2 separate regions of the Homo sapiens genome follow, and region 1 is linked to region 2. Evidence: fine-mapped expression QTL. Tissue or cell type: whole blood. Region 2 holds a variant in brackets; the other region holds the start of a gene. All regions are shown on one strand. Distances are between the middles of the regions.

Region 1 (2,500 bases), 360 kb before region 2:
ATTTTTTAGTGGAGACGGGGTTTCACCGTGTTAGCCAGGATGGTCTCGGTCTCCTGACCTCGTGATCCGCCTGCCTCGGCCTCCCAAAGTGCTGGGATTACAGGGGTGAGCCACCGCGCCCGGCCACACAATGGCTTTCTTAAATGCTGACCTCTTCCCTTCAACCCAAAGCCAACCATACTGGGCCCCCCACTTCCTGCCAGACCACGCTGCAGTGCTCTGCTCCCTAGTGTCTACACTGCTCCATAGGCCTGCATGATACCCCCCTGGCTCACAAACGGGCATGTGGACGTGATGAGGGTGTGAGTGATCAGCTGCTCCACTGAGTGGTGAGTGATCAGTTCCACCACTTCCCTGTTCCAGAGCAGAGGGAACTAGGTGTCACCCTCAGTTGTTTTCTGCCCTTGTCCTTCAGCTCCTGCTGTCTCAAGCCAGGAACTCTGCTCAGGGAGAGTGGACTGTGCTCAGGCGTGGTTGGCAACGCCACAAGAATCTAGAGAGCCTGGGCGGGAGTGTCCCTCTAGAGCTTAAGATGGGGCAGCTACTCACCGGGGTCCAGGCTGTTGTCGCTGTAGGCATACTCCACCTGCGGCACAGAGCACGGGAAGGGCCCGTCAGACCTCCGCCCCTAGGGGGAGGCGCCCCTTCCACTGCAGGCACGCACAGCGCGCCCCCCATTCCGGGAAGGCGCCTCTGTCACCCTGCGCGCTTGCACACACACAGCCCGGGGTGCGCGGGCAGCTTAATGAGTCCCCCGAGACTGGCACAGGCTAGGGCGTGCGAGTGCCTCCCCTGTGTATGATCCCTTCCGCCCCTACTCCACCCCAGTGCCCCGTTCCCCCGACTCGCGCGCACACGCCTCGTTTGTCTCCCCACCTTGGCACACGCGGGGTGAGAGCTGTCTTCTCTGCAGCCCCGGGGCACGGAGAGCGTGGGGGACTTTGGGGACAGGAGGGAAGCCCCTCGTCTTCCGGCCCCCCTACGTGCACGAGCCCGACCCGCCCTCCCCTCGCCGGCGTGCGCGCCCACGGGGCTTGCCTTGACCCAAGGGTCCTCGGGAGAGGCGCCCGGCTCCGTCATCTTGTACCCACCGGACCGGAAACGGGCCAGCGGGCGGGCCCCCTGCGGCGAGGAAGCGGGTGGCGTGCCCACGTGACCCGCGCCCGCCAATCCGCGACCGAGAGGTGGGGCAGGGCGAAGCATCGCGCATGCGCAGCCCAAAGACTTTACTCCACGGTTCCAGCCGTCAAGGCCCGGCGCTTGGCCTGGCGCCAGCCTCCTTCGAGACTGCTCCCCGCCGTGCCTGCCCTCCCCGGGTTAGGCAGTGGAATGGCGGCGACATGAAGCGCGTTTTGTAAGATGGAGTCCCCTCAATTGGCTTGTCAGCACACCGCCGCAGATAGTGTGTGCACGCGCACTGTCCGGCCGGCCGGCTCCCCACGTTACCCTGAGGGCGGCCTCCCCGCGCTCACCGGACCTGCACTGCTGGCCGGTGTGTCAGGAACCGGGCAGAGAAGCCCCCAGCCACATCGTCCGACCCCACCAGGCTGCAAGCTCTGTGAGGGCAGAGGCCCCGCCTGGCGCGCGGAAGGCTGATCTTCCAACACCCAGCCCAGTGTCTGGCAGGATGCATGTGGAATGAACCCTTGCAAAGAACCTGCTAGCTAGGTTATGCGGCCTCTCATATTAAAAACAAAACAAAAACAATAAAACACGGCAGTACCTAGAAAGTCTACACCTTACTCAGAAGAACACAGCTGGTCAGTGGGAGGGCCAAAGCTCGCCTCTGGCTAGCCTCAAAGGCCATTCTCTTAACCACTGCATTGCCCAGGCTTCCAGCTCAGGCCTGGGCCCTGCACTTGTGGCTTAAGGATCCCAAAGATACTTAGGGGCATTGGAACAGGAAGCAGACACCATACAAGCAACATCTCAGAACATTCACCTTTAATTCTGTTACAGGTTCCAGTATTTGCGCTGGCCCTAGTCAGCTGTGGGTAAGAGTCACCCATGGGCAAGAGTGGGGAGGGGACTGCTCCCCCATGAACCACATCCTCAGTGTTGGCCAAATACCAGCGTGTTGGGTAGGCTTCCTGTGTCCACCAGGCCTGGCCATGTCCTGCACAGTATAGCTTGGACCTCTGGGCCTGAACCAGGGTGAGCATCAAGGCCCCCATTTCTCCTCACCACGGGGTCGCTTGTCAGCTCCAGGAGCCAGTCTGGCCCCACTGAGAACTTTTCAGTCGAGGGCCTGATGAGTCTTGGGAATGCGCTTCTGCAAGAGGGCCCAGGCTTTCTCCACCTTCAGACAGGCCAGGATGTTGGGAGGAAGAGAGGGCAGGGTCAGGCAGTACCCACTGGAGACTCCTTCCCCACAACCCGGCCTTGCCCTGGGCACCAACCTGGCGTTGGGTGATATGCGGCTCCCACAAGGTGCTGAGCACCACGTGGCTCTGTTCCACAAGCTGCTGCCCGCTCATCTGGCTCTGCAGCCGGCTTTGAG
Region 2 (2,757 bases):
TGCCTGTAATCCCAGCTACTCGGGAAGGCTGAGGCAGGAGAATTGCTTGAACCCGAGAGGTGGAAGTTGTGGTGAGCTGAAATCGTGCCATTGCACTCCAGCCTGGGCAACAAGAGTGAAACTCTGTCTCAAAAACAAAAGAAAAGAAAACAAAAAAACAGATACCACACAACATCTCTCATCTAGAGATTAACCTCTATGGATGATTTAGTGACTATTCTTGCACTCTATATATAGATATGTATTATACATTGCATCACCCGTTGCTTGAACTTCCTGTGTGGAGGTTATCTAGCAGCAGAACGAAGACCATAAACAAGGAAACATATTCAGGCCGGGCGCGGTGGCTCATGCCTGTAATCCCAGACTTTTGGGAGGCCGAGGCAGGCATATCACCTGAGGTCAGGAGTTTGAAACCAGCCTGGCCAACATGGTGAAACCCCATCTCTACTAAAAATACAAAAAGTAGTCAGGTGTGGTGGTGGGCGCCTGTAATTCCAGCTACTTGGGAGACTGAGGCAGGAGAATCGCTTGAACCAGGGAGGCAGGAGAATTGCTTGAACCAGGGAGGCAGAAGTTGCAGTGAGCCGAGACTATGCCACTGCATTCCAGTCTGGTGACAGAGCGAGACTCCATCTCAAAAACAAACAAAACACAAATATATTAATTTAGTGATGGGCGCCCTGAAGACAAATAAAGCAAGGTAGAGGGATAGAGAAGTGGCAGGGAGGAGAGTGGAGGTGTTATTTTACTAGAGTGGTCAAGGAGGGTTTCTCTGAGGACATGTTTGTTTTTTTTGTTGTTGTTTTGTTTGTTTGTTTGTTTGAGATGGGGTCTCACTTTGTTGCCCAGGCTGGAGTACATTGCTCACTGCAGTCTCAAACTGCTAGACTCAAGGGATCCTCCCACCTCAGCCTCCCACATAGTTGGGACTACAGGCATGCACCACCAATCCTGGTTAATTATTTTATTTTTATAGATATGGGGTCTTGCTGTGTTTCCCAGACTGGTCTCAAATTCCTGGGCTCAAGCAATGTTCCTTCCTCAGTCCCCCAAGGTTCTGGGATTATAGGCATGAGCCACTCTACCTAGCCAGGATGTGATGTTTGAAAAGACCTGAATGAAGTGAGGAAGCTAGCCATACAAAGATCTAGAGAAAAACATTGTATGCCAAGAGAACAAGTACAAAAATCCTGGGTTGAGAATGGCCATGTCTGGAAAGCCTCAGGAGGGCCAGGGAGGCTGGAGCCTCTTGAGCAGGGAAGATAAGTGGTAGGAACTGAGGTCAGGACACTCCAGCCTTGGAGTTCAGGGTGAAAGGTTGGAGTCTAGACCATATCATATGTAATTTTTTGTGACTTTTTTTTTTT[A/TA]CTTGGAAATATATCCTAGGTAGCTGGGCATGGTGGCTCATGCCTGTAATCCCAACACTTTGGGAGGCCAAGGCAGGTGGATCACTTGAGGTCAGGAGTTTGAGACCAGCCTGGCCAACATGGTGAAACCCCATCTCTACTAAAAAACATACAAAAATTAGCCGGGCATGGTGGCAGGTACCTGTAATCCCACCTACTCAGGAGGCTGAGGCAAGAGAATCACTTGAACCCGGGAGGCGGAGGTTGCAGTGAGCCAAGATCACACCACTGCACTCCAGCCTGGGCAACAGAGCGAGACTCTGCCTCAAAAAAAAGAAATATATCCTATGCAGAGTTACAGCTCAGTAAATGTAATCTTCCAACCTCATTTTGATGACTGCATACAATCCCACTGTATGGTGAGTTACATGTTGGTTATTTAAGATACTTATAATTTGGGCCTGGGCACAGTGGCTCATGCCTGTAATTCCAGCACATTAGAAGGCGGAGGAGGAAGGATTGCTTGAGCCTAGGAGTTTGAGACCAGCCTGGGCAACATAGTGAGACTCCATCTCTACAAAAAAGAAAAAGTTAGCTGCGCTTGGTGGCGCATGCCTGTAGTCCCAGCTACTCAGAAGGCAGAGGCTGGAAGATTGGTTGAGCCCAGGAATTTGAGGCTGCAATGAGCTATGATTGTGCCATTGCACTGTAGCCTATGTGACAGAGTAAGACCCTGTCTCAGAAAAAAATAAAATCCTATTTCTGGCAGCATTTCTTTGTTTTTAACTTCTTAGCCAATCTATAAAATACTCTGTACACTGTAAAGCACAAAAAACATGTTATGAAAAGGTCGCTCCTGACACTTGAAGCCCTAGAAGAAGATTAGGGTAATAAGCAATTGGTGAACCCTGCAGCGTTTCACCCTCTTGGGCTACTTAAATGACAAGCTCCTTGTCCTATAATCATAGTGTGATCGTCCTTGCCTAGTATAATTAACTTTGTACTGATTCCCATATTCACGTACCCAGAAACAAGACTTCATTCTCCCATGTCAGATAATCACATTCTTACCACCTGCTTACCTGGATTTCCATAGTCAGCCTTCTGAAAAGGTAACTGTGGTTGACCAGATCACGTGCAGGTTTATCTGCTCATCTGCCACATCCCAGTGGGGATTCTGTGGGAAGCAAAGGACACATCGCATTCTTGGCACCAACAGCACTCACTGGGACTAGTGACATCAAAGTACCCCAAATGCAGAAACACCAGGCGTGAAGGAGCGTGCAGGTGCTGGGAAAAGTAGCCTTCCCTTTCCTGAAAGACTAGACACTCAGAGTTAGAGGAACCTCAGACATCATCAGATCAGATCAGCGGCTCTCCAGTGCCTAGGCCTTTCCATTAGATCCCT

Evidence for each region. PIP is the estimated chance that this variant, and not a neighbour inherited with it, causes the effect.
Region 1: MLX starts here. The variant in region 2 is fine-mapped to the expression of MLX in whole blood (INTERVAL, PIP above 0.99).

Annotation. Positions count from the first base shown.
Region 1 is chr17:42,565,705-42,568,204 of GRCh38, reverse strand. MLX (MAX dimerization protein MLX) reads right to left here and starts at 1,105. Exons shown (of 8, transcript NM_198204.2): 1 at 1,039-1,105; 2 at 550-586. The coding sequence starts at 1,080. It overlaps COASY (Coenzyme A synthase), which reads right to left. Exons shown (of 9, transcript NM_025233.7): 8 at 2,400-2,500; 9 at 1,928-2,299. The coding sequence ends at 2,237. RefSeq lists enhancers at 354-443, 319-826, 1,584-1,633, 1,840-2,346, 2,347-2,500 and a silencer at 844-1,243.
Region 2 is chr17:42,203,965-42,206,721 of GRCh38, reverse strand. All of the region lies in intron 16 of STAT5B (signal transducer and activator of transcription 5B), which reads left to right. Among named protein-coding and RNA genes, the nearest start is that of GHDC, 11 kb to the right of the region's middle. The variant A/TA (reference allele first, on the strand shown) is at 1,371.